2 linked regions of the Homo sapiens genome follow. The protein of the gene in region 1 purifies or fractionates together with the protein of each later gene. This does not show direct contact. Each region holds a gene or a part of one and is shown in the gene's direction. Other genes may lie near its edges.

Evidence for each region.
Region 2: the proteins of TMEM51 (region 1) and PTER purify together in Homo sapiens (affinity purification with mass spectrometry; 3 studies listed by BioGRID and IntAct, with this or other methods). This does not show direct contact.

The regions. Positions count from the first base shown.
Region 1 is NC_000001.11:15,216,096-15,219,746, forward strand, and holds part of TMEM51 (transmembrane protein 51), read left to right. Parts: intron 1-3,230; coding exon 3,231-3,648; 3' UTR 3,649-3,651.
Region 2 is NC_000010.11:16,435,448-16,439,198, forward strand, and holds the start of PTER (N-acetyltaurine hydrolase), read left to right. Parts: upstream 1-1,562; 5' UTR 1,563-1,600; intron 1,601-1,909; exon of another isoform or gene 1,910-2,220; coding exon of another isoform or gene 2,221-2,298; intron 2,299-3,751. UniProt on the Homo sapiens protein: N-acetyltaurine hydrolase that regulates feeding by catalyzing the hydrolysis of N-acetyltaurine into taurine and acetate. N-acetyltaurine has anorexigenic and anti-obesity effects that are dependent on GFRAL receptor and GDF15.

The DNA.
Region 1 (3,651 bases):
TACTCTTAAGTGAACCAGCATTTTGACCCGCCCAGGGTCACTGAACAGGGCCTGGGGTGGCCAGCATATTTGCTTGTCCCTTCACCCCAGCATGCTGTGTGTATGCTTTAATTTGAAATGGCTGGGAAGCAATTTTCCATTTGAGCAAAAATGCCACCAACAAATTTAAAAGATAAGTGATACATTGGGGAAGATATGATAATAGTTGATATCCCTATTATAAAAAGAGCTCTTAGAAATGAATATGTAAGATGAATATACCAATAGGAAACAGACAAAGATTATGAATATTCCATAGATGTTCAACCAATAGATGTTCAACTTCATTAGTCATGAAATGCAAGCAAAAAGATGTCTTTTCTTTTTTTTGCCTATCATATTGATCAAGATAGACAGCCCCTACTGTTGGAGAGTTGTAGGGAAGATGGATTGCTGATGAAATGTTGACTGATAGAAACTTTCTTAAGAGTTTCACCATAAGGGGCAGTACTGAAGATGTGCGTATTGATCCTATTTATAAGAGTTTATCCCTGGGAGACAGTCCCACAGGTGCAAAGGAGTTTGTACCAGTATATTTATCAGATCATTGTTTAGGATAACAAAAACTTAGAAACAACCTAAAAAACCACCTACTGAGTTAAATGACGTACCTATTCAATGGAGTTCTATGCAGCAACTGTTGATCTATATTTGTTAATGTGGGACCATATCCACAACAATGAGAAAAGGGGGATATAATACAGCATCTTTGGTCAGGTTATGGTCCCATCAAATGTTGTGGCTGTGGGATTGGAGAGGGGTAGGAAAGGTATACACCAGAATGTTACAGTGGTTTGTCTCCAGGTAGAAGGATTCGGGATGTTTTTCTTTTCTTCATTAGATGTTTCTGTGTTGTTTGAATTTTCTACAAGCATTTCTTATCTTTATAGTGGGAAGGGAATTGTTCTTAATGTAATATGGATTAAAGGGAACCCTTGGTACACTAATGGTGGGAATGTAAATTAGTGCAACCACTGTGGAGAAGTTTAGAGTTTCTTCAAAAAACTCAAAATTGAGCTGCCAAATGATTCAGCAATGCCACTTGTGGGTACACACCAGAAGAAAAAAAAATCTCATTATATTGAAGGGATTTCTGCCCTCCAATGTTACCAGTTACCACCCCTTTCCATGGTAATGACCTGGAAGTTACCATCCCTTTCCTAGAATGTTCTAAATAGCTTGCCCTTCAATTTACATTAACCCACTTCTTACTTTTGCACATAATTGAAAGTGGGTGTAAGTGGGTACAAATACAATTTCCAAATTAAACTCATTTTCTGATAGCAAAGAATAATATATGCTGTATTGGTCAGGGTTCTCCAGAGACACAGAACCAGGGGGATATATATTTTTTTAAATGGAGATTTATTATGAGGAATTAGTTCCTGGGATCATGGAAGCCAAAAAGTCCCACAATTTGCCATCTGTAAGCTGCAGACCCAGGAAAGCAAGGGGTATAATTCATTCTGAGTTTGAAGGCCTGATTGAGAACGAGGAGAGGTGAGGGTATAGATCCTAGTCTGAGAGCAGGAGAAGATGAAATGAGATGTCCCAGCTCAAGCAGTGAGGCAGGGAGAAATGAGTCAAATTCCTGCTTGCTCTGACTTTGGGTCTATCTAGGGCCTCCATGGGTTGGATGGTGCCACCACACTGAGGAGGGGAATCTGCCTTACAGAGCCCACCGAGCTGAATGCTAGTATCTTCCAGAAACACCCTCACTCTCACAGTGTTTAATATGGGCAACCATGGCCAGTCAGGTTGACACCTAAAATTAACCATCACACATGCTTATTCTAGAAAACTTGAGAAATATAGAAAAGAACAAATATCAATCACTCATCATTCCCCACCCTAGCTGTGAGCACATTTGAGTTCATTCCTAAAGGAGGGTGGGAGGAAAACCAAGGCAGACTTTGAGGTTTCTGATGTTGGCCATGATCACCCCACAGGTTCAAGTATAGAGTCCTGGAAAGTGGCTATTGGCGTTAATTCTGACAAATGTGTAGAAAATATCCTGACTTTTTGGTTTTCTCTTTCAACAGTCAAATGAGAATAAGGCTGAGAGGACCTGATCTTTTTGAGTCTTGGGATAAACTTGGAAGATAAAATTACAGAATAATTTGAGACACACATAAATGTTATATTTCAGATATTCTTTCTCTACTGAAAGTTGGTAGCAACTTTGTACATTTCTGTGTTGCCTTTGACCAAAGGACCCAGCTGAGCATTGGAATAGCTCACGCAGCATGTCGCTAAGTGGGAAAGGCTTAAAGGCAAAGGAGGTTTAACACCCAGATAACATGGTGGAGTAGTTGAGAGTACAGTGTTCACTTCCTGCCCTCCCATTTCCTGAAGGTCTGACCAAGTCATTTAATCTTGATGTATCTCAGTCCATCTATAAATTGGGTATTATAATAATAGTGAGATAGAAAACAGGCAGGACTTGTTTTCTGATCATAACCCTGCTGACCAAAACAGGATGTGGTCCAGATGAGATAAGGTTTAAAAAAACACTAGCCAAAGCCAGCAAACGGGAACGAGGGTGATCCCTGGCTGCCCTCATTGCTCATCAGCATGGGACACTCTCACCAGTGCCATGACAGTTTACAATTGCCATGACAACGACCTGGCAGTTACCATCCCTTTCCATGGTAACGACCCAGAAGTTACCTTTCCTAGGAAGTCTTAAATAGCTTGCCCCTCAATTTGCATTAACCCACCCCTTAATTTGCATGTGACTAAAAGTGGGTATAAATACAATTTCCAAGAGCCCCTATGTGGCCAACTCAGGGTGTACTGCCTATGAGTTAGCCCTGCTCCACAAGAAGCAGTGCCCTTCAATAAAGAATTGTGGTCTAACACCACTGGCTCACCCTTGAATTCCTTCCTTGATGAAGCCAAGAACCCTCCCAGGCTAAGCCCCAATTTGGGGACTCACCTGTCCTGTCCTGCATGACTAGTACTTAACTCATAGTGTTGTCAGGAATCTGAAATTGGTTCATATTTGCTAAAATACTTAGAAGGGAGCCCAGCTCATAGTAAACACTTGAAGTATTCACTTTTATTGCCTCTAAGACCCATTTGTTATTTACAAGGCTGCTGTGTGTGGACTCTTTGGAGCCCATCCCTTTGGGATTTTGAATGACTTGAGCACAGGCTAACACTCTCCCTGTCTGTGTGTCTTCTTGCAGCCAGGAGGAAGAAGAGGAGGATGAGGAGGCTGCCTCAAGGTACTATGTTCCCAGCTACGAGGAAGTGATGAACACAAACTACTCAGAAGCAAGGGGAGAGGAGCAGAACCCGAGGTTGAGCATCTCTCTCCCGTCCTATGAGTCACTGACGGGGCTCGACGAGACCACCCCCACATCCACCAGGGCTGACGTGGAGGCCAGCCCTGGGAACCCCCCTGACAGGCAGAACTCTAAGTTGGCCAAACGACTGAAACCGCTGAAAGTTCGAAGGATTAAATCTGAAAAGCTTCACCTCAAAGACTTTAGGATCAACCTCCCAGACAAAAACGTCCCTCCTCCCTCGATAGAGCCTTTGACTCCTCCACCGCAGTATGATGAAGTCCAGGAGAAGGCCCCCGACACCCGGCCGCCCGACTGAATG
Region 2 (3,751 bases), on another chromosome or scaffold:
ATAGCGAGACCTCCATCTCTACAAAAATTACAAATATTAGCTGAGTGTGGTGGTGCACACCTGTAGTCCCAGCTGCTCAGGAGGCTGAGGCAGGAGGATCCCTTGAGCCCAGGAGTTCAAGGCTGCAGTGAGCTATGACTGCACCACTGAAATCCATCCTGGGCAACAGAGCCATTTCAAAATAATAATAATAATAATTGATGACAGTGTAATATGGTTGGGGTTCAGAAAATGATACCCCAAAATGAAGGCCTTAGAAGCAGCTCTCTCTAACCTCATGTCCTCCTGCCTCTGGCCCCTCATTCTAGAAACTGGAATCCCTCTTCCCCAAGGTGATTCACAGAAGCCAGAACCCCTCATCCCCAAAGCCAAGCATAAAACCTAAAAGTTTGACTCTGCGTGTCCCCTGCCTTTCTGTGTCAAAACTGGCGGTAAAGAAATTCTCTGCCCTGCTTTGTTTGACTGTAGGTCATAAGACCCCCATTCCAGAAAGGATCCTGCTCTATACCCAGAAGGAAGGAACACTGCACAGAAAAGCCAAAAAGAATCTAAACAGACAGGGCTTGCTCACTTAGTCTATTGGCATTAGCTCAGACCCTTTTTATGCCATCGTAGTATCTCTTAGGTTGGTGCAGAAGTAATTGCGGTTTTTGCCATTAAAAACCGCAATTACTTTTGCACCAGCTGAATACATGGCGGTCCATACTTTATTGAACCTAAGCGAAAAAATGGACCGTTTCCCCTGCATCTTTGGGTTTTCATTCTGAAGGCTCCCGGATCACATAAAGTTACGATCTAGTATATTTGTATGCCTTTTCTACTGTGAAACTGTCTTTTGTCAGTTGATTTTCAGCAAACTTTCAGAGGACGAAGGAGAGGTTTGCCCTTGGCCCCCTACAATACCTAAAGGTATGACTCTTTACTGTGGCAGCTGCTCCAAGCATCATGTTTTGCCAACAGACTCACACATACTAAGTTTATTTCAGTCACAGCAAGTACCAGGGCCAGTTCAAGTGCTCTAGCACGGCACTCTAATTCTAAAGAGAAGGAAACGCGGCACCGGGGCAGGAAACAGTGACAAGTGGGAACACAAAAACCAAAGTTCTCCGTATGCAGCATGAGGATCCAGAACCCACTGTGACATCAAATTGCCAGAGCACCACCTCCGATTTATTCTTGGGGAAAACCAAAAGAGCTACGGAATGCTCCCTTGTTCCAGACTGTTCTATGGAGAACTGGGATCTGGGGAAAATGCAACAGTTTCTTTCCGTTTGGGGATCTAGCCCCGAATTTTTTTCATTCAGCCAAACTACCGACAGTCAGACAGCGCCTGCAGGAGGGTGTGGCCAGGCAAAAACGCGGGGAACGGCCCCGGACCAGGGTGGGGCGTGGCAAGGGTTTGAAGGGCGTGTCCTACGAAGAGGTAGGGCTTGGCAAGGACCCACGGGGCGTGTCCTAGGACTCGGTGAGGGCGTGACCTCGGGCCAGGGGCGGGGAGAGAACCAGAGGGCGAAGTGGGAGGGCACAGGGGAGACTAAAAAGGCCAGGGAAGTTGGCCTGCCGGAAGTTCCCAGGGAGAAGGCAGCGCGTTGTACCCGAGGTAAGGCTTCTTGGAGTCAGAGCAGGAGCCGGAACTGTGGGCCCAGTAGGAAGAGTGGGGCCCGACGGCGGAGGCCGCGCGGCCAGGGTTCGCTGCAGAGCTCCACGCGAGGGTCCTGCCGGAAGGAAGGATTTTCTAGCCGCTGCGCTTGGGCCCTGCCGCCTCTCCTTAAGTGCTTGAGGGACGTTGCAAAGAGCGCCAGTCCCGTGTGGCGCCAGCTCCCTGTGGCTCGACAGCAATGCCCGGGGGCGTCATCGGGTAGCTGTGCTAAGCCTCCTTTAATAAGCTTTTTTTTTTTTTTTTTTTTAGATTCAGGGTCTGGCTCTGCTTCCCAGGCTAGAGTGCATTTGGCGCGATCACAGCTCACTGCAGCCTCGACCTCCTGAGCTCAAGCGAACTTCCTGCCTCAGCCTCCTGAGCTTCCTGAGTAGCTGCGACTACAGGCACGTGCCACCATGTCCGGTTATTTTTGTATTTTTTGTAGAGAGTGTCTCGCCATGTTGCCCAGGCTGGTTTCGAACTCCTGGGCTCAATCAGTCTGCTGCCTCGGCCTCCCAAAGTGCTGGCATTACAGGTCTATATTTTTTGACAGTTTATAAAAGCCAATTACCAGCGGTCATATGTCTGAGTCCTGTGCACTCTTGCTTAATCCACTCTGCAGCCCTGTGAAGGATTCTAGTGATAACGACAAAGCTAAGGTACAGAAAAATTAGGCCACACTGCTGGAAAGTTTAGAGATGGAAACAAAGTTTAGAGGTGGAGTCTTTCTGACTCCACAGCCAGTGTGCTGTTACTCTCTTAGACTACCTCATTCTTTGTACATCCCAAGTCAACAGGAACTAAAGGTATACCCTTACATAGGCAGTAAGAGGGGTTGCTGATTTAAAGAACTTTGGACCCAGAAAGAGTAGAGCCCTATTCTAGTTCTGGTTCCAGCTCAGTGACTTTCTACAAGTTGGTTTTCTTTTGCTTTTTTTAAAGACAGAGTCTCGCCCTTGCCCAGGCTGGAGTGCAGTGGTGCGATCTCGGCTCACTGCAACCTCCGCCTCCCGGGATCAAGCGATTCTCTTGCCTCAGCCTTCTGAGTGGCTGGGACTACAGGCGCGCTCCACCACACACAGCTAATTTTTGTATTTTTAGTAGAGACGGGGTTTCACCATACTGGCCAGGCTGATCTCGAACTCCTGACCTTGTGATTCACCCACCTCGGCCTCCTAAAGTGCTGGGATTACAGGCGTAAGCCACCGCGCCCGGCCTCTTGCTTTTTAAGACTAGGTCTCATTATTTCACCAAAGCTGGAGTGCAGTGGTGCTATCACAGCTCACTGCAACCTTCACTTCCCCCGTTCAAGTGATCCTCCCAGCTCAGTCTCCCACAGGTGCACACCACCACGCCCGGCTAGTTTTTATTTTCTGTTTTTTGTTTTTTTTTTTGTATTTTTGGTAGAGACGGGGTTTTGCCATTTTGTCCAGGTTGGTGTCAAACTCCTGGGCTCAAATGATCTGGCTGCCTCGGCCTCCCAAAGTGCTAGGATTACAGGCGTGAGCCACTGCGCCTGGCCTGCCTGTTTTCTAGACACATTAAGGTGAGTGGTCTCAGGCCAGGCGCGGTGGCTCACACCTGTAATCCCGGCACTTTGGGAGGCTGAGGCAGGTGGATCACTTGAGGCCAGGAGTTCGAGACCAGCCTGGCCAACATGTGAAACCTCTTTTCTTCAAAAAATTAGCTGGGCATGGTGGTGGGCATGCCTGTAATCCCAGCTACTGGAGAGGCTGAGGCACGAGAATTGCTTGAACCTGGGAGGCAGAGGCGGCTGTGAGCTGAGATCACACCACTGCACTCCAGCCTGGGTGTCAGAGCAAGACTCTGTCTCAAAAAAAAAAAAAAAAAAGGTAAGTGGTCTCTAGGTCGCTAGTGGATGTAATAATCTATGGATTTATGAGGATAAGATCCTGATTTTACCATTTAATGATATTTTGGGCCAGTTTTTTTCCTTTTTAATTGGGCAGCCCTCAAACCAGAATAGATTGAGAGGGTCTTCCAGTTTTGGGTCATATTTGCTGCTGAAATTACAAGGTAGTCAGGAAGGGTCTGTTTATTCAATCAAAGATCAATAAATGTGTATTTTGGAGGTCAGTAGCGGAGTATCCA